Linked DNA regions of Homo sapiens. The protein of the gene in region 3 interacts with the protein of the main gene of each other region in a pairwise test. Each region holds a gene or a part of one and is shown on either strand. Other genes may lie near its edges.

The links. The genes of interacting proteins can lie anywhere in the genome.
Region 1: the proteins of PINX1 (region 3) and AIDA interact in binary tests that used the Homo sapiens proteins (3 or more experiments, as listed by UniProt).
Region 2: the proteins of PINX1 (region 3) and TNPO2 interact in binary tests that used the Homo sapiens proteins (3 or more experiments, as listed by UniProt).

What each region holds. Positions count from the first base shown.
Region 1 is NC_000001.11:222,709,492-222,716,571, reverse strand, and holds the start of AIDA (axin interactor, dorsalization-associated protein), read left to right. Parts: upstream 1-4,080; 5' UTR 4,081-4,254; coding exon 4,255-4,364; intron 4,365-7,080. Other genes in the region: BRO1 domain-containing protein BROX, read right to left, coding at 772-888, 2,905-2,939. UniProt on the Homo sapiens protein: Acts as a ventralizing factor during embryogenesis. Inhibits axin-mediated JNK activation by binding axin and disrupting axin homodimerization. This in turn antagonizes a Wnt/beta-catenin-independent dorsalization pathway activated by AXIN/JNK-signaling.
Region 2 is NC_000019.10:12,713,933-12,720,932, forward strand, and holds part of TNPO2 (transportin-2), read right to left. Parts: coding exon 6,947-7,000; intron 5,405-6,946; coding exon 5,329-5,404; intron 5,247-5,328; coding exon 5,097-5,246; intron 1,808-5,096; coding exon 1,701-1,807; intron 1,607-1,700; coding exon 1,473-1,606; intron 1,393-1,472; coding exon 1,311-1,392; intron 1,238-1,310; coding exon 1,115-1,237; intron 1,008-1,114; coding exon 889-1,007; intron 1-888. UniProt on the Homo sapiens protein: Probably functions in nuclear protein import as nuclear transport receptor. Serves as receptor for nuclear localization signals (NLS) in cargo substrates.
Region 3 is NC_000008.11:10,822,876-10,829,875, reverse strand, and holds part of PINX1 (PIN2/TERF1-interacting telomerase inhibitor 1), read left to right. Parts: intron 1-3,631; coding exon 3,632-3,724; intron 3,725-4,432; exon of another isoform or gene 4,433-4,503; intron 4,504-7,000. UniProt on the Homo sapiens protein: Microtubule-binding protein essential for faithful chromosome segregation. Mediates TRF1 and TERT accumulation in nucleolus and enhances TRF1 binding to telomeres. Inhibits telomerase activity. May inhibit cell proliferation and act as tumor suppressor.

The sequences.
Region 1 (7,080 bases), on a different chromosome or scaffold from region 3:
TCCATATGACACAGTTCGCCAACCCCTGATCTAAGCCATACAATTCATTCAAGGCCTATCTCAAGTACTTTTTCCTGTGTGAACACTTTGAAGGCCATTTCAGGTCACAGGGATCTCTCCTTATTCTGAAGTCAAGAAGTTTAATATGTGGCCAATTTAAAATGTCCCTATAGAGCTGGGCATGGTGGCTCACGCCTGTAATCCCAGCACTTTGGGAGGCCAAGGTAGGTGGATCACTTGAGGTCAGGAGTTTGAGACCTGCCTGGCCAACATGGTGAAAACCCGTCTCTACTAAAAATACAAAAATGACCAGGGCGTGGTGGCAGGTGCCTGTAATCCCAGCTACTCGGGAGGCTGAGGCAAAAGAATTGCTTGAACCCAGGAGGCGGAGGTTGCAGTAAGCCGAGATCAAGCCATTGCACTCCAGCCTGGGCGACAAGAGTGAAACTCCATCTCAAAAAATAAAAATAAAAATAAAAATAAAAAATAAAAATGTCCATACACTACTTTGTAGAGTCCCTTGTACTGTTGTAATATACAGATTAACTGTTTTACTGTGATTGCTTTAGCCTCTCTGGGACTCATTTACTGATCTAAAATTAAGGATCCAGGCGTAGAAGACTGCCAAATTTAAATAATCTATGATTTAACTCTTAAATGTCATTTATAAATTTATAACAAACTTAGAAACAGTGTGTTACATATTTCTGTATTGCCATGGAACCAAAAAAAGTACCTTGCATCTAAGAGTGGTTCAATCAATAAACTTACTTGCATATTTTTGAAGCAGAAGGGCCAGTGACTACACCATAGTAATTAAAAGACACAGGAGCTGTGGCTTTTAATGGGTTCCTATGAAACCAATGGGTCATTTTCTCCAGATGTTTTCTATAGACAAAAAAGTAAAAAATATACAAAAATTAAATATAAAATATTTAATAAACAAGGTAAATAGCATAACAATTTATTTCAATAGTATAAAAATTTAATTCGAAAATTAGCCTGGCTAAATTTTGTTATTTTTTTAGTAGAGACGGGGTTTCACCATGTTGGCCAGGCTGGTCTCAAACTCTTGACCTCAAGTGATCCACCCGCCTTGGCCTCCCAAAGTGTTGGGATTACAGGCGTGAGCCACCGCGCCCGGCCTCAGGTTATGTTTTGTCTATTTATGGTGGTCTATGTTCAGATCAGGCCTATAAAAAAAAGCAGAAGAGCATTTGAAAATCTGCCCACAATAACTTCAATGTTAACATACATATATAGGAGCAGTAATGTTTAAACTGTAATATACATAAAAATCACCTGGGGGTGGGTGGTTTTGTCCAATGCAGGCTCTAATTCAATAGCCTGGGGCAGGACCTGAGATGCTGATGCTGCTGGTCCCCAGACACTTTTGAATAGCAAAGTACTAGATTTTGGTTGGACAACTGCAAGTAAAAAGGGCACAGGACCAGATGAACGTAATTTCCAAAACGGGTTCAAATGGTAACCCTGATTATATCGCTAAGGCTACTTGTAATACGTTTTAAGTTAACTGCTGTATTTCCGACATATTGCTGACAACAGTGGATTGGTTATAGCATGTGTTCTACAATAAAATGTACTTTCCAAAAAATACCTAAAGAATATTTTTAAAATAAAAATGTAATACAATACTTGATCAATAAATTCTATTATAAAATGAAAACATTGGGCTGGGCATGGTGGCTCATGCCTGTAATCTCAGCAGTTTGGAAGGCCGAGGTGGGTGGATCGCTTGAGCTCAGGAATTTGAGACTAGCTTGGGCAACATGGTGAGACCCGGTCTCTACAAAAATCAGCCGGGGATGGTAGCCACGCCTGTGGTTCTAGCTACTGGGAAGACTGAGGAGGGAGGATCCCCTGAGTCCAGGAGACGTAGGCTGCAGTGAGCCCTGATCTCCCCATGGCACTCCAGCCTGGGCGACAGGGCAAGATCCTATCTCAAAAAAGGAAAAAGGAAAAAAAAAACAAAAAACAAAAACTTGGAACACCACCTAAGTGAGATGCCAACTTAAAAAAAAAATTAAGTTCCATGCCTTCTACTTAAAAAAAAAAAAACGCGCGGTGGCTCACGCCTGTAATCCCAGCACTTTGGGAGGCCGAGGCGGGCAGATCACAAGGTCAGGAGATCGAGACCATCCTGGCTAACACGGTGACTCTACTAAAAGTACAAAAAAAAAATTAGCCGGGCATGGTGGCGGTCGCCTGTAGTCCCAGCTACTTGGGAGGCTGAGGCAGGAGAACCCAGGAGGCGGAGCTTGCAGTGAGCCGAGATGGCACCACTGCACTCCAGCCTGGGCGACAGAGGGAGACTCCGTCTCAAAAAAAAAAAAAAAAAAAAGCAGCATGTCTTGTCTAAATGTCCTTGGGTAGGTAGTGCAGCAGATAATAAGGAGAAAGCCCAGGCGAAGACCTAAACATGGCAATTAGATTCCAGGAAGTAACTGAGAAAAAATTCTGATAAGGTTCATTTAATTTGAAGGCACTAAAAAATTCTGACAATCGACTTTTCCTAGTATTAGAAAATAATGGTGGCTGTACAGTGTATGAAATGCCTACATTAAGTGCTTCCTTTATGCTATTTATTCATGACAAAGCTGGTTTTGAGGAGCACCACATACTTAATGAATAGAGAATACAGTGTGTACCCAACGAAAAACTGAGCAGGTTTATTTAGGACTCAAAACATTTAACGAGTTATTTCAGAAAATATCATCTTCTACACATCTTCCATATAAATTCCGATAGCCTAATACAGCATCTATGTGCCTACAAATAATATCACACTCAGCACTTGAGGCTGCGAAATCTTCCACAAATACTTCTTTTAATGCGGCCTCCTACTTCCTGGATGAAAATGTCTGAAGTTTTGCGAATCTTTACTTCAGGAAAGAAGAGGGTTTCTGCCCCTGCCCCATCTTCTCCCCTTCTGCGACCCGGCGGTCTTCAGTTTTCGGGAGTTCCTAGGGTGGGATAGAAGAACGACACACCCACCCGCAGGGACAAGGGTGCCTTTAGAGCCACCAATACAACATTCGGATCGAAGCTGTAAGCTAACACACTTCCACAAGAGGACTCCCGCTCCTAACAAGGGACCCCCACCCCGGAAGCCCCGAGTCCCCAGAGGAACCTACCTGAGCGCCGCCCCCGAGCTCTGAGCGCCCACTTCCTGTTTACCACCCAGCCTCTTCCTCCCGTGCCCAGTCCCGTTCGAGGCAGCGGGCGGCGACCGTGCGCACGCGCCAACACTTGAGTTCCCCTCTTTCCAAACAGGCATTTTTGTGGAAAGCCGATACTGTCAACCCGGGAGAGGTGGCCAGACAACGGCCGAACGAACCCCAGTTTAGCTTGTATTATAAGCTCTCCAATGACCAATGGAGATGCGGGGCAAGGGGATTCAGCGGATCTAGCTGTTAATGCCACTGATTTGTGGTGACCAATATGGATTTTCTTTCTGTCGTTTGTTTCAAGGCACTAGAAGGAGACTTTTGGTCCACTGTCCAGGGGTCTATGGAGACTAATGTAAAAGGGGGTGATCCTATTGCTTGAGACTCCGGGGAAGTAGCGGGGGATATTACTGAGAAACACCCATCCTCTGACATACTTACCAAATTTCTCAGAGTCGGTTCAGCAGTTCTTCTAAGGGAAGAAGGGCAATATATCGGAGTCCACAAGCGAGAAAAAGAGGGAGTCGGAGAACCGAGACTACAGAACCAGGGTGACGGAAAACCAGGACGGCGCCAAGCCGGAGTCACGTGACCCGGCGGCCATGATAGCTACCGAGGCGGTAGTGCGCGCAGCTCAGGGGCGGGTATTGCCGCGGCGTTGCAGTCCCCTCAAAACGCTTCGTTCATCATCCCTTTCTAACTTCTCCCTCGGCCTTCCTTTTGAGCTATGGTCTTTTTCCCAGACAGGAAGAGAAGAGTTGCCCCTACCTCCGGAGCCGAGGGAGAATGCCGCAATAGCGATGGCGGCCCTCGGCGCAGTGGGGCGGCCTCAACCTAACCCGGGGCGGGGCCTCGGGGGCGGGGTCTCGGCGGGGCGGTCGCTTTGGAGCCGCAAAGTTTGGCTGTGGCGGCAAATGGGCTTGGGCGGCTCCTCGGCGGGTGGCGGTGGTGGCCGTAGCGGTTCCTCCTGGCCCTGTTAATGTCGGGGCCAGGCCGGGGGAGGATGGCGCCCTAGAACCCGGCCTTGCTGGGGTAGGGGCGGGAGGGGACGGGGTGGGGACCGGCCATGTCGGAGGTGACCCGGAGTCTGCTGCAGCGCTGGGGCGCCAGTTTTAGGAGAGGCGCCGACTTCGACTCTTGGGGCCAGCTGGTGGAGGCGATAGACGAGTATCAGATGTGAGTGACTAACCGCGGGAGCAGGCCAGACCGGCTCCAGTCGTGCGCCTCTCCCTTGTTTCTGTCGGTGTCTCTCATCACCGTATCTGCAGCCAAGGCTTCTCAGGGTGGGGCTCCGCAGGCACTGGGGCTGAGATCCCTCGCCACCAGCCCCAGCGAGGCTGCTCTAGGGACAACGGCTCCGCTCTCTGGGGTGACTCGCCTTCTTCCCTCTCCGCCTCCGCAGGGACAGTTCCATTCAACAGGTAGCCCTTCTTTCCTGGGGCGCAGGCCCCAGCAGGCTATCTGCTTAGTTCCTTTCCACCGTCTCGCGGGTCCCCCACTTGGCAGTCAGTTTCCTTTCCTCCTCCTCTCCCAGGTTGCTTTTCCTCGATTTCCTTTTGAAATTCTCTGAGGAATACTTGTGTGTTCTCCGCCCACGTTCCAAGGATGAGTGGCCTTGCTCTGTGTGTGTCTTCCTTCTTCCATGCGTAGGAAAGGAGGGAACTGTTTGCGATTGAGGGGATGGGGGGGAGCCCAGGAAGCAACGAGGGCCAGGGATACCTCTTCTGCCAAAAGAAGGGTCTCCTCTCGCGCTCCTTCTCCACCCCTCTTTCTGGTGAGCCGTGTTTTCAGAATTCCACCTCGATTTCGTTTCGGTTTCTGGGACTGTTATTTGGTAGGCTGTGAGTCCCACCCACCCCCTCGCTCGGTTGCCTTGGGTGGAGTCCGCGCAGGATGTGAACCGAAGAGAGCAAAATGTGAATTAATGGACCACGCACAGGAGCTCCACGCCCTCCTTGGATCCCTCCTCCTTTTCCTGTATATAATGTATAGCCGCAGGGTACAAGTGAGTACCAGTTTCCTTGAGCAACCTAAGACCAATTTCTTGCCCTTTCTGGTTTCCACAGAAAACTTCAGGGTTGTCTTAAAAAATAAAAGACAAGATTTATATACACATAAAACCTTGCTTAGGTTTTTGCACATTTTACTGAACTTAAGAACTGTCTGCCAAAATGCTATTGTTTGCAAACTCGCCATTAATTATTCTCTGTTTAAAGCAAGTTATTGTTTGAGATTTCACTGAGTATGAAACCACGTATGAGTAGAATACCCCCGGCCTCCCCCACCCCCCATCCGCCCCCGACACACAACGATTTCTGGCAAGAATATACGCTTGGTACTTGGAAGATCTAAACTCTTATCGTCTCCCCGCAATAGTTATTTGTTTTTATCTATTAAGATAATTTAAATGTGTAGGTACTGACTTTGAATCGCCTGTAGCTTCAAAAAGCTCTGACAAAAACCCGTGCTCTGAGCCATTTTGCGATGTGTAACAACTACTAGCATTTGTTTTGCACTTTCACATGATTTCATTTGCTCTTGCAATAACCCAGTGAGAATATAATTATTCTCATTTTACGAAATGAGGAAAACTGAAGCTCAGGTTAAACAGATTACTCAGGTCACAAGCTGATACCACTGAAATCTGGGATTTAAAAAAGAAAATCCAAATCCTGTCTCTACTACAGAGTGCTTAAGATGTACTGAGAGAGTAATTCTGTAAGTGAATTAGACAAATGATAAGATTTTCTTTATTACTGGAGAACACACCCTTCCATACTGTAGCCAATTAGTAAGCACCTATGTATACCCATTCTGTATATTAACTAATATTGCATAGTTTGAAATAGAAAGCCATCTCTTACTTGTGAGGTGGTGAGACCTAGCAGCTGTTGACACTGGGCAGCCGACTTCACAATGGAAAGTGAAGAATACCATGTCCAATTGAAATTACAAAGGAAAATTGAATATGCAAGCTGTTTAGTTTGAATTTCTAGGAACATGAAGGTGAGGGTGATAGGCATGTGCAGATCCATTGTTGGACCTCAGTACTAACCATTGAACTTCATGATTCTAGTAGTCCTCAAATTATAAAAACTGCCAGGGTCAAATTTCAGTGAAAACATGTAATGATTGGCTTAAATTCTGTAAACATGTAGGCTACATATAAAATGAGGTCAAGAGTTTAAAATTACCTAATATATCCAGAAATGAATGCAAATTATCTTTTTCATTTGAAATATCTGGGAGGAAAGGCTGCAGCAAAATAGACCAATTGGGGGCCACTATAATGATGTAAACAAGAATTGACAGGATTTAGTTACTGACTGGATGTCGAGGGTGTAGAAGGAGGAAGAGTCTAGGATCGTTGGGATTTCTAATTGGGTAGGCAGCAATCTTATCGCCATACAACACACAGGAGCTGCTTTATGCGAGGGATGTAGGGGGAGAGATAGTGCATATCTGTATTCTCATAATGTAATAATACTGTAGCTTAAACAATTTCATGACTCAACAACTAAGGGTTAGGGATACAAAGATGAATAAAATTTGATTTCTGCCCTCAAAGCACTGAGAAGCCAATGGAAGATTTTAGAGTAACTGGGTGTTGCAATTACGGAAGTATGAAAAGAGTAAGTGCTCCCACATTCCTTGCTATTTCCTGGAACATAGTTCTGCCTTAGGGCTCTCGTATTTTTTTTCTGGGGCACTTTTCCCCCCATTATCTGTTTGGGTCACTTTGTCACCTCCTTCAGGTCTTTGTTCAAATATCCTCAGTGAGGCTGTCTCTGGCCACCCTGTTTAAAATTGCAAAGTCTCTTGTCCAACCCCACTGCCTCTATCTCAGTTTCACACCTCCTGCTCCCCATCCTGCTTCATTTTTTTCATTTTT
Region 2 (7,000 bases), on a different chromosome or scaffold from region 3:
GGTAGGAGGATTGCTTCAGCTGGGAGGTCAAGGCTGCAGTGAGCCATGATTTTGACACTCCACTCCAGCGTGGATGACAGAGCAAAACCTTGTCTCAAAATAAAAAAGAAAAAAATGATTTGGAGAGAGGCAAGCAATCCAAGTTTGTCAAGGAGGGTCAGTTTTAGGACTTTTGTTGGAAACACTGGTCGAAAATTTCTTTACTCTGAAGTTCCTAAGCTGGAAGGGCACAGAAGGCTACAGCACTACCCAGAGGGAAGGTTGTGCCTAAGAATGAAGCCAACACAAGGGAAGCAGATCTGAGACCACAAAGATGCCTTTCACATCCTTTGAGCTCCTGGATACAGCCATACCCCTGAAGCCTTTGTTGATTTTTCATTTCTTTTTTTTTTTTTTTTGAGACGGAGTTTTGCTCTGTCACCCAGGCTGGAGTGCAGTGGCACGACCTTGGCTCACTACAACCTCAGCCTCCTGGGTTCAAGCAATTCTCCTGCCTCACCCTCCCAAGCAGCTGGGACTACAGGCGCCTGCCACCACGCCCAGCTATTTTTTTATATTTTTAGTAGAAATGGGGTTTCACCGTGTTAGCCAGGCTGGTCTCGATCTTCTGACCTTGTGATCTGCCCGCCTCGGCCTCCCAAAGTGCTAGGATTACAGGTGTCAGCCACCACATGTGGCCATTGATTTTTCATTTCTTTCCACCTATCAGTTACCTAATTTTGAAGTCTTCAAAAAGTGGCATTCTTACCACTTACACATAAATATATACTGAATGTAAACTGACAAGGATGTGGACTGAGAGAAGCACAGCAGGTGACCAGAAGGGAAGGCAGAGGCATAGCAAGGGGTCGAAGCTGGGGTAGGACAGTGGGCAGCAGCAGCACTCACTGGACCAGATGGGAGGCCAGGACTTCCTTGCAGATGGGCTGCTCGGCCAGCGTCAGCCAGAACTCACAGGCCTCAAGGGCAACGTTCTCATCATGGTCCTGGGTCCTCTGCAGCATGTACTGTGGTAGGGGGGAGAAGCTGAGGCCTGGCCTGGCTGGGGGTGGCTCCCTGACCCCTGCCACCGGCCCCCTGCCTGCCCGCCTGGGCTGGCCTTGACCATGCACACCTGGATGATGCTGTGCATGTGGGGGATGAGCCTGTCAATCCGCACTTCCAGAAGCATCACCAGGGCACGGCACACATTCTTCCGCACCTCGGGGTCATCATCCACAGCCAGGGCAAATAGGTGCTGCAGGGAGGAACAGGGTCAGTTGTAGGGGCCCTCAGTCCTCGCCCTGCCCACCCCCAGCCCAGCGGCCCACCTCGATGAAGGTGTCAATATTGTCCATCAGCGCCTGGGCCCGGTCCATGATGAACTGGTTCACGCAGGCGATGGCGTGGGACCTGGCGGGGAGCAGACACGTGGGTCACCCTGACCCTGCCCACTCCAGGCTCCCTGGAAGCCCCCAGGGAGCTGCACCCACCGGATCTTGGGACTGCAGTGCTTGAAGAACTGCAGGAACTTGGGGATCATGATGTTGAGGGGCCTGTTGAGGGCGTCACTGTCCAGAAGCTCTGATGAGTCTTCACAGATCTTCTGCAGGGCTCCAAAGGCTCCCTGAGTGCAGAGGGGCAGAGAGACAAACGTGGGTGGTGGGTGGTGGTCCCAGCCCCCCAGTACTCGCTCTGGCCATCCATGGCTTCTTGCCTACCTCACAAGTGTTGTAATCCTCCGAGTTAAGCAGGTTGCAGAGCTGGGGCAGCAGCTCGGGCCACATCTGCAGCTCACCCTTGGAAGCGATGGTGGTGATGAGAATGCCTGGGGCGGCCGGGAAAGGACGCTGCCTGAGGCTGGGCAGGGGCTGCCTAGCACCTCCCCCTCCCACTGGACACCCCCAGTGCTGCCTTTCTGTTCCCTAGCCCATGTACGCCCTCTACATCCCCCCTCCTTTTTTTTTTCTTTGTAAGAGATAGAATTAGCTCTGTTGCCCAGGCTGGACTGCTGTGGCACAATCAATAGTCCACAGCAGCCTCAAACTCCTGGCCTCAAGCCATCTTCCTGCCTCAGCCTCCTAAGTAGCTGGGACTGCAGGCACATGCCACCACGCCCAACTAATTTTTAAAATTGTTTGTAGAGATGGGATCTCACTATGTTGCCCAGGCTGGCCTAAAACTCCTGGCCTCAAGCAATCCTCCTGCCTTGGCCTCCAAAAGCACTGAGATTACAGGCGTGAGCCACCGCTCCTGGCCTTGACATAGGTAGAAGGGTACTCCTTGACTCAGTAGGCACCCTGAGCCTTACTGTGAGTCAACTCTGTTCCAGGCCCTGAGGCACAGCACAGAGCAAAACACAAAATCCTCACCCTTGGGAGCTGGAAGCAAGCTATGAAGTAAAGATAAATTAGCAAAAAAAACTGGGAGGGGCCGTGCATGGGTGGCTCATGCCTGTAATCCCAGCACTTTGGGGGACCGAGGTGGGTGGATCACTTGAGGTCAGGAGTTCGAAACCAGCCTGGCCAACATGGTGAAACCCCATCTCTACTAAAAATACAAAAATTAGCTGGGTGTGGTGGGGGGCACCAGTAATCCCAGCTACTTGGGAGGCCGAGGCAGGAGAATCACTTGAACCTGGGAGGCAGAGGTTGCAGTGAGCAGAGATCGCGCCACAGCACTCCAGCCTGGGATGGAGCAAGACTCCATTTCAAAAACAAACAAAACAAAAACAAACAACTGGGAGGGGCCACATGCCAAGGACTAAGGGGGGAAATACAGCAGAAAAGATGGTGAGAAAGGGCTGTAGGTGAAGGTAGCAACTTTAAATTGGGTGGCCAGAGCAGGCCTCGTTGAGGTGACATCTTGATATCTGAGCCAAGGCCTGAAGGAGGTGAAGGAGGCGAGGGAGGAATCATCCAGGTTTCTGGGGAAAGGGCATCTGAGGCAGGGGACTCTATGGTGCAAAGGCCTGGCGTAAGGACAGGCATGATGAGAGAGGGAAAGGAGGTAAGGGCAGGAAGGTGGCAGGGATGCTTGTACTGCCTATTAGATATCCAGGAGTTACATACAGCAGGCATCTGAGGTGCCAGGACAGTGCACATATCTGGTGACAGAGCTGGATATGGGTTCTGTTAAGTGCAGAGATGGTATTTGCTGCCATGAGATGGCAGTGTTTCCCAAGGGTGGAAACTCAACGAGAGAAAGGTGCTCCCTGCAATGGGTAGGTACACAGTGAGGATTGTGGAACTTTAGCCACACCCCCTCATTCTGTGTGCCTCAGTGCTTCCAGCCCTCAGAAGAGATAAAGAAAACCAGCCTCCTAACTAAGGTTATCAGTAGGTTTCTTTTTCTCTCTTTTTTTTTTTTTTTTTTTTTGAGATGGAGTCTCACTCTGTAGTCCAGGCTGGAGTGCAGTGGCACAATCTTGGCTCACTGCAACCTCCACCTCCCGAGTTCAGGTAATTCCCCTGCCTCAGCCTCTGAAGCAGCTGGGATTACAGGTGCCCGCTGCCACACTCAGCAAATTTTTGTATTTTTAGTAGAGATAGAGTTTCACCATGTTGGCCAGGCTGGTCTCGAACTCCTGACCTCAGGTGATCCACCTGCCTCAGCCTCCCAAGGTGCTGGGATTAGAGGCGTGAGCCACTGTGCTCAGCCTGGATCAGTAAGTTTCAATGACTTAGCAAAGAGCCTGGCACATAGAATGAGCTCAGGAAGTCCACATCCTACTACTGGCCTGGGAGGGGGTTTTTGCAGGACTAAAAGTTACTTTTTATTTTTGAGATGGAATCTCAGTCTGTTGCCCAGGATAGAGTACAGTGGCATTATCTTGGCTTACTGCAACCTCTGCCTCCCGGGCTCAAGCAATTCTCCTGCCTCAGCCTCTCGAGTAGCTGGGATTACAGGTGCCCACCAGCTGTAATTCCCAAGTAATTTTTTGTATTTTCAGTAGAAACGGAATTTCACCATGTAGGCCAGGCTAGTCTCCAACTCCTGATCTCAAGTGATCCGCCTGCCTTGGCCTCCCAAAGTGCTAGGACTATAGGCGTGAGTTACCACACCCAGCCAGAAGTCATTTTTTTTGTTTTTATTTTATTTAGTTTTTTTTGAGATGGAGTCTTGCTCTGTTGCCCAGGCTGGAGTGTAGTGCCGCAATCTCGGCTCACTGCAACCTCTGCCTCCTGGGTTCAAGCAATTCTCCTGCCTCAGCCTCCTGAGTAGCTGGGATTATAGATGTTCACCACCACGCCCAGCTAATTTTTTTTTTTTTGAGATGGAGTCTCGTTGTATTGCCAGGCTGGAGTGCAGTGGCGCCATCTCGCCTCACTGTAACCTCCAACTCCTGGGTTCAAGTGATTCTCCTGCCTCAGCCTCCCGAGTAGCTGGGACCACAGGCGAGTGCCACCACGCCCAGCTAATTTTTTCTATTTTTAGTAGAGATGGGGTTTCACCACATTGGCCAGGATGGTCTTGATTTCCTGACCTTGTGATCCGCCCACCTCAGCCTCCCAAAATGCTGGGATTACAGGTGTGAGCCACCATGCCTGGCCAGCTAAGTTTTTTGTATTTTAAGTAGAGACGGGGTTTCACCATGTTGGCCAGGCTGGTATTGAACTCAACCTCTGGTGATTTGCCTACCCTGACCTCCCAAAGTTGCTGGGATTACAGGCGTGAGCCTATTCTTAGTCATCTTTCTGTAACTTCCTCAGGCCACCTTCCAAGAGTCAGAAAAGGCTCTGCTGAAAACCTAATTCCGTTGCACCTGAAACATGAATACCTGCATTATTTTAACTGCTATACCCTTAGCACTCAGCCCAAGGCCGAACACAAAATTCTAGATGTTGCATGACTGTCTCAGAGCCAAGAAGGACTGTTTCAGGAGGGAGTGGTTCCAGAGCGTGGCCCTGCACTGCCTCAGCTGTTTCTGACTTCTGCTGCTTACCCAGACAGGTCCCTTAATAGCTCAGCGCCTCAGCTTCCTCATCTATCAAATGGCAATAGTAATAGTACTACCATAGAGGGTGCCAGAGCATTCCATGAAGCACTACACTTAACATGCTGAGAAGTGAGAGTTCAGTGTGTCCTCAGAGGCCAACCCCCGCTGCCCCTCTCACCAATGGTGGCTCGGATGAGCGAGGAGGCATCGCCAATGTTGTTGAGACACTCCTGTTTGATGAAGTCTGCCACAGGGGGTGGGAAGCTCTGATAGTGTGCCTTCACGTTGTTCTTGAGGATGAGGCCACTGAGAGAGCGCGTTGGCTCATCTGGGAGGAGGAAGGCTGAGGTTCAGGGGCCCAGGGGGAGAAAGCAGGGTCCCGATCGCATGGAAGGGAGCAGAGGGCGTACCTTCTGACTTGAGTCTGGTCAGGACGAAAATCAGGTAGTTGTTGAAGTCAGGAAACTGATTGAGTTGTTTGAGTTTCTGCCAGGCTGTTAAGGGACTTGGAAGACAGAGGCCTTCCCCCAGCCAGGTCCCCTCATTATGTACCTGACACTATCTCTGACCACTGGGACCAGGCTGCCAGCTCCTGGGGGATCCCGCTCCCTAATAAGCCCACAATGACACAGAGCACCTCAGACACGTCAAATTCATATAAGGGGCCGGGCGCGGTGGCTCACGCCTGTAATCCCAGCACTTTTTGGGAGGTCAAGGCGGGTGGATCACAAGGTCAGGAGTTCGAGACTAGCCTGGCCAGCGTGGTGAAACCCCATCTCTACTAAACATACAAAAAAATTATCCGGGCATGATGTGTGCGTGCCTCTATTCCCAACTACTTGGGAGGCTGACGCAGGGGAATCGCTTGAACCCAGCAGGTGAAGGTTGCAGTGAGCCGAGATTGCGCCTCTGCATTCCAGTCTGGGCGACAGAGCAAGACTCCATCTTGAAAAAAAAAAAAATCATACAAGGAGTTGGGTGGAAATGTCTGAGTTTCCCATCCACTCCTGAAGACCCAGCCAGAGCAGGAGAGGGAAGGAGAATCCCACTCCTCTTAAAGTGGCAGCTACTAGTCAGCGATCCCCACTAACAGGCCATGAAGACTTTTTTTTTTTTTTTAAAAGAGGGAATCCAAATTTTGGGGTGAGTCATGCTCATGGTTTAAATATTTATTTATTTATTTTCAGACAGAGTCTCACTCTGTCACTTAGGCTGGAGTGCAGTGGCACGATCTCCGCTCACTGCAACCTCCGCCTCCCAGGTTCAAGCGATTCTCCTGCCTCAGCCTCCCAATTAGCTGAGATTACAGGCTTCTGCCACCACACCTGGCTTAATTTTTGTATTTTTAGTAGAGACAGGGTTTCTCCATGTTGGCCAGGCTGGTCTCAAAACTCCTGACCTCAGGTGATCCGTCCGCCTCGGCCTCCCAAAGTGCTGGGATTGCAGGCGTGAACCACCGCGCCTGGCCTATATATCTTTTCTTTGAGACAGGGTCTGGCTCTGTCGCCCAGGGTGGCTGGAGTACAGTGGCACAATCTCAGCTCACCACAACCTCTACCTCCTGGGCTCTAGCCATCCTCCCACCTCATCCTCCCAAGTAGCTGGGACTACATGTGCATGCCACCACACCTAGCTATTTTTTGTATTTTTTGTAGAGATGGGGTCTCCCTATGTTGCCCAGGCTGGTCTCAAACTCCTGGGCCCAAGCGATCTACCTGCTTCGGCCTACCAAAGTGCTCCGATTACAGGCATGAGCCACCCCGTTGGGCCAGGGCCTACTTTAATAGTTAATGGAGTAGATGCTAGCGTTCGATGAACATTAGGAATTTTCATCATTTTCTATAACAATCCCCGCAGCTCTGGAAATGGGACCCAGGAATTGTAATCCTTCTCTGTCCAGGGCAGATCCTCCGCACAGCAGAAAAAATCTGGGGACTAGGGGAGTCAGTCCCTCTCTTTCTCTCTCTGGCCTTTGGAAACTGCACGCATCTACCCGGCTCCCCCAGCCCCGGAAGGAAGGAAGGATACATCCTGCACGATGCGCTGAGTGGCTGTGTTGGGCGACTGTGAGTCTTTGAGCAG
Region 3 (7,000 bases):
CCTGTCTCTCCTAAAAATACAAAATTAGCTGGGCGTGGTGGCGTATGCCTGTAATCCCAGCTACTTGGAGGCTGAGGCAGGAGAATCGCTTGAACCTGGGAGGCGGAGTTTGTGGTGAGGCGAGATCACGCCATTGCACTCCAGCCTGGGCAACAAGAGTGAAACTCCATCTCCAAAAAAAAAAAGAATGTAAGAATGTAAGCATGAACATATAAGACTTGGAGATTAAATAGAATGCAGTGGTTTAGAGACAAACACCAGAGTTAGACTGCCTGGATTTTAATCCTGGTCTGACTTTTCATTTGTATGACATTCGGTAAATTGCTGAACATGGCTGTACCTCGATTTCCTCTTTGGTTAAATGGAAGCAGTAGTATCATCTTTGGAAGGTTGTTGTGAGGACTAAATGCATTATAACATCTAAGAAAAGCAAGCAGAGATACTCAGCACTGTAAGCCTCCTGATAGTGTGGCTGGCAAATCTAGAGCCATAAACCACGATTAAGGCCAGAAAATTTACTTTACTCTGAAGGATTTCATAAAGAATCTAGGGTTTTATTTTCTCTCTCTCTTTTTTTTTTTTTTTTTTTTGAGATGGAGTCTTGCTCTGTGGCCCAGGCTGGAGTGCAGTGGCACAATCTTGGCTTACCGCAACCTCCGCCTCCCGGGTTCAAGCGATTCTCCTGCCTCAGCCTCCTGAGTAGCTGGGATTACAGGTGCACACCACCACGCCTGGCTAATTTTTGTATTTTTAATAGAGACGGGGTTTCACCATGTTGGTCAGGCTGGTCTCCAACTCCTGACCTTGTGATCCACCCACCTCAGCCTCTCAAGGTGCTGGGGTTACAGGCTTTAGCCACTGCACCTACCCTCATGATTAGTAGATCACAGTGAATAAAATTAGCAGATCTGTTATACATTTTAATGAATGCTTATTAAACACATCTCTTTGGCAGTGCACCTCCTGATGAGCTGGGTTAGCGTAGGGGTGTGAGGGCCGGGCCAGCTGCTTTGATTGCTGCTTTGACAACAGTATTTTCCCTTGTCCCTCATTGATCCCGGTAAGAGGAAAGTTGTGCCTTTCCTTTGTAAAGTGGGAGGGGATACCCGGGAAAGGACGGCCAGATTGGTGCATAAGTCAGACTCCGAGCAGTTTCAGGCATGAGTGCACGTGAACAAATAGATAGAAAGTGATTCCTCAAGGCCTGGCGGTGCTCACGCATCCTTCTTGATACCTGCATGCTGAGAAGGTAGAGACGCTCACCAGGTGATTCTTCTGCCCTCTCAAGGCTGAGAGAGCTGCTCTGTGAGGGCACGGCGTGGTGCTTCAGGATGTGGCCTCTGCGTCATGTCTGCCTGGGCTTCGGTCCCATCGCGGGGGCTTCCTGGGTGTGCCTTATCAGTGTCGTCCTCTGTAGTGAGTTCAGGCATCACAGCAGCTCTCTTATGGAGTGGCTGTGGGAAGGAAATCCAAGAATTCATGGAAAGCCTCCAGTCCAGCGCCTCGTCCCTCATACACTTGCAGTCGGTAGGAGCCGCTTTAAGCTGATAACTTCCTCTGTGATTTGTGATTGGAACATCAGCATTGAAAATGTTATGTGCCATATGAAGTGCAAAAGAGAAGAATTTACTGGTAGGATGTCTTTGCAAAAAATCCAAGGTGTCCCTGGGAAGTGGCTGCAGAAGAGAATGTTTCAGCTTGTGGAAATAATGAGCCCGTGCTGGGCTTTGCCTCAAGTGCGGAACATCTGCCTTCACGTTCTTTCGAGCCTGCTGTATAGTTCCCATAGGGAACTATACCTTTGAAATAAGTGACTCCTGGGAGGGGTTGCAGTGCAGTCACATGTTGTTGAATGGACACGTGCTTGTTTCGCTCCACTGTCAGGGTGAGAGTTTCTTTTTTTCCAATTTCTCTTATATCCTCTGAAGAAGGTTGGTTTGTTGGATTTTTTTTTTTTTTTTTTTTGAGATGGAGTCTCGCTCTGTCACCCAGGCTGGAGTGCAGTGGCGTGATTTCGGCTCGCTGCAAGCTCTGCCTCCCAGGTTCACGCCATTCTCCTGCCTCAGCCTCCTGAGTAGCTGGGACTACAGGTGCCCGCCACCACGCCCGGCTAATTTTTTTTTTTGTATTTTTAGTAGAGACGGGGTTTCACCATGTTAGCCAGGATGGTGTCGATCTCCTGACCTCATGATCTGCCTGCTGCGGCCTACCAAAGTGCTGGGATTACAGGCATGAGCCACCGCGCCCGGCTGCTTTTTTTCCAGTTTCTCTAACCTCATATCTGAATGTTCTTAAAACTGTAGGAAAATTTAGTCTCTCTTCTGCCTATGATCGTTTCTGTGGCACTCTTCTGTCTGAACTTGACAAGCAGATACAGGTGAGAGAATGCAGGTGGCTAGCTAATTTATAATTGACTCTAACCCCAGATCAACCTGCTCTGATCAACCTTTCAGGCAAGGACCTACTTTCTGGCTCACATTTTCCCTTCCGTCAAAGGCGTTACCACTCGGATGTCTTCCTCAATGGTGTGTTCCTGCTCCTTTTGCCCTTCCAGTTGTCCTTCCCGAAACCCTGAAAAGGTGGCTTGGAGCTATTGCTGCTCCTCCATGCGTCACCTAATCGTCATCTCTGATCTGTATTTAGGTGATCATTTAACCTGTCTTACCTTTATTTACTTTTTAAAGGAACTTTTTATTTTGAAATAATTACAGGCTTGTAGGAATTCGCAAAATAATTCAGAGAGTCCTGAACGTCTTTCCCCCTGTTCTCCCAGGGTGGAGAGACATTACATTGCTGTGGCTTTTCGCAACCGGGAAGTTGACATTTGGTGTTACTGTCAACTGCACCACAAACCTTAGCCAGTTTTCATCATCTTTTTTTGGTCTCCATTCATTTGTACATGGGCGGATGGTTCTGTGCAATTTTATCACAAGTGCAGATTCATGCAGCAACCACAATGGTGAAGATACAGGATTGGCCACCACGGCACAGCAACCTCATGCCTCATCTTTGTATTTGTACCCACTGTACCTTCATCCTTGTCCCCTCGAAACCATTCATCTGTCCTCTCTCTCTGTAGTTTTGTCATGTCGAGAATGTTCTGTAGATGGAGTCATATGTTATGTTTGTAGATGGACCTCTGACTAAGCACAATGCCCTGGAGTTTGTTTTGGCCATTGCGGTGGCAGCGGCCGCCGCTCTTTACTGTGGAGTGGTATTCCACTGTAAGGATGGCCCAGGGGTTGCTCAGCTGTTCATGCATTCACACGTTGAAGGACTTGGGGGTGATTTTTGGTATTTTGCTATGATGAATAAGGCTAATGTGAACATTTGTGTCTAGGTTTTGTGTGAACACAAGTTTCCATTTCTTCCTCAAGGATTTTCTAAATTTCTGGAGGGCAGCCTGGCCTGATCCATAGTATGCAAATTAAGGAAATATTTCTAATCATTTGACTCCTAGAAAGAAAACAGAGATCCAGCAGAAGGGTGCTGTTGCAGAGCAAATGAATGAAAGAGTTCAATCATTAATGATAGGGCTCCTAAAATTTTCTTTCAAGACTATCCACTGTTAGGAGAATAAATGAGATTGGATTAGAAAGACTTTAATGTATTTTTTTCATCTTTTTTAAAGATTCCTCGGACAAGAAGGAAAAGAAATCTTTTAGCCTTGAGGAAAAGTCCAAAATCTCCAAAAACCGTGTTCACTATATGAAATTCACAAAAGGTAAGATTAAGCATTTCTTTACTTGTTATTGAAATCTACGTGTTTGTCCTGAGTTGCTTGAAGCATTTTAGCTCTGGGCCAATAGCGACTTCATGCTTTATGGACAGCTCCGACTGCATTGCTGTGAAACAGCGCTGGAGTCTTCGCATTGACTGTGGTGTGCCTGAGGATCTTGTTAGAATTCAGATCTAGGAGATCTGAGATGGGACCCAGATTAGGTTTTAGACTGTAAACAAGTCCTGTGGCTGAGCTAAAAAATGGAATCAGCTTATATTTAGAGGAAAACGGGACTTTATGTAGCTAGGTCAGAAAATAATTTTAATTTCTTGCCCAACATTTTTAGCTGCATGGTGTTTTTTCACAGCTGAAAGTTGGTGTTAAATAGCTTTTAATACGCCAGGTTAGAGAATTATGCTCTATATTGATACCTCCAGTGTGATAAAGCACACTCCCTGGTTGACCCTTTATTCCACGTAATTTCTCCATTTCACAGCGTAGGCATTCCATAGTCATTGCCAAGTCGGGTAAAAAGCCGTTTGAGACCTGGGTGAGAATTCCTATTCCTTCATCACCACCTCCCTAGCCCCTTCCCAGTATGTGAAATCATTTGTGCATGCGGTTGTTGTCTTCAGCCACTAGGTGGCGATCTTGCATTGGAAAGAAGCAATTTAACCTAATAGAACCAACTCCCCAGTTTGTCTGTAGAACAGTATCATGAATTAGAAACCTACTTATTACATAGTTTACATAAGAAGCGTGATGATGCTGCTGATGCTGTAATATCTAGTCTCTGTTGATGGTTCTTTCCTGGGAGGTTGGATGTGTTTCTACCTTGATATGCCAGGAACAGCACATCTCTGCTTTGGTCTTCTAGGAATGTCATGCGTATCAGGGCATTGCTGGGAAGCTCTTAACTTGTACAGCCAGCCTGGATAGCAGTGGGAGCTGGAATCCCCACTACTCTGAAGTATTGATGATGCTTTTCATTTAGGGCCAGGAGCCCAAAAGTGAGGGCTGGGTTTGGTTGAGGTGAGAGGCCGTGGCAGAGCTGAGTGGATTGGGGATTGTGTGCAGGGAGAGGCTGGGCCTCCCTTCCCTCTCCAGCAGCCGTGGCTCTTCCGCTTCCTCCGTTCTTTCTCTCACATGGAACTTTCTTGGCTGTCGCCCGTATCCCTTCTGACTGGGGTTCTTCTCCACCCCAGCGTGCTATGGAACAGAATACAGGCTTCCTTGGCCCTCAGTCCTTTTGAAGAGAGGGTACATGCTCACTTCATACCCAGTCCCTGAAATAGCATTTCTTCTTTCATTAGACTGTAGAGAAAAACTAGAGATCACAGAAGGTGCTGTTGCAGAGCAAATTAATAAAACTCAGTGACCTGTAACTTTCGGATGATGTGGCAGCCTTTTACGCTTTCACTTTTACAGGTAGAATCTTCTAATTTTCCTTTGATGCCAGACTGCATGCATGATTTCATCTGAAGCATTTGCTGAGGCTGGGATAAGCCTCTGTAATCTGCTTTAATCTAATGGATGCCGGGAGCATCTGCTTTCTATTTCTAGTTAAGCCACTCCTTTGCTGGGTGACCCTGTGAGACCGCTGAGTGCCTCGTGCCTTCGTTTTCTGTCTTCCAGCGAGGGTTCTGTATCTATTAGCCTTGCCTGGGGAGAAGAGGGAGTCAGTATGCAGAACAGAAGGATTCTCGGATCTATTGTCAGATTGCAGAGAAGAGCTGGAGTGGAGACGGGAAGGACATGCAGACTGGGCCTACGTAGGAAAGGGAGAAGGAAGCAAAAGTCCAGGGAGTGAGGAAAAGAATGGTTTATCAGCTAGCTTTCCAATCACGGTGCACACTTATTTTAAAGTTTCCTCTAGGGTGGACTATCTTAGATCACAGAAAATCTCACTCTGGCCATTACTCGCTCAGACAAGTCACCTACCCATTTCCCTTCAGACTCAGTTTCCTCTTTTGTAAAATGTGGATACATTTGTAAGTGACTATTAAGTTCTAAGGTAGGTTCTGTTTTATGATTTATTAGAAATGACCCATTTCATGGAACTTTTGCTTTTTCAGCATTGTAGATAATAAAGATTTTCGCCAGTGGGTATGCTGATAACGACTGTAACTCATTCACTTAGTTGATGAGGATGATTCATATTGCAACTCATGTATCGTCCAGGAAATCAAACAGGAAGATGCAATTGTACATAGCTTGGGAAGAGTGAAGATTAAAATTTTACTCTACTAAGATTACAGTAGCAAATAGTGTTGTAAAATTTGCTACTGCCTAAATATCAGCTGTATCATTATTTTTATTTTTATTTTGAGACAGGATCTCACTCTGTTGCCCAGGCTGGAGCACAGAGGAACAGTCTCAGCTCACTGCAGACTTGACCTTCTGGGCTCAAGTGATCGTCCTGCCTTAGCCTCCCAGCGTGCTGGGACTACAGGTGTGAGCCACTGCACCTGGTTGGTTATATCGTTTTAGTTCTGATATATAATTATTCCTTTCCCTGGTCCTGAGTTTATAATTCTAACTTGAGCTAATTTATTGTATAATTTTAAATGTCAGTTTTATCATACTTATTTAAAGGCTCAACTCCAGCTTGGTTTGTAGTTTTTTGTATTTTTTTTTAATGCAAAAGGTCTCTGCAGATAGAGGCTATATCTGCAGAGGGGAAAATGTCAATCGATACAAAGCCATTTCTGAGGTTTTCTGACTGGATGGTGAGACGTTGGCAGGAGAGCAGGAGAGCAGTGCTTCCTCCCCTCAGTTATGCAGTTGTTGGATGAAAGTTGCATAAACTGTAATTGTGCAGCTTTATCCTGGGAATCTTGCAGACTTCTTAATCCTTTTGAGAGTTTGGGCTATTTTATATGCTACTGAAACAAGGAAACTACATGCCTAACGCATGTGCAGGTGCTCGGCTTCCTGGTCGGGAAATACAGAATTGGTATTCACAGCGCAGTCAGCCCCGCCCCTCAGTTGCACACTGGTAGTGAGGAGCATTCAATCTCCTCTTCTGATTCTTTTGACATTTAAATAAATATCAGGTAGCACCTGGTAGGTCTGACCTGTGTCACTCACACTGACTCTTTCCACTTTCCTGGTTTATGGTGTCTTTTAGTGGAGTTACCCTTATCTTCTGCCCTCGGTTGACTGCCAGTTCTGTGTGTTTGCCATTTAAAAAGATAAAAATAAAAGTATGTCATTTTATTTGTCCTTCTTGATTGAATAATGCAAATGAATTTTCTAAACTATTGAAGCTACCTACAT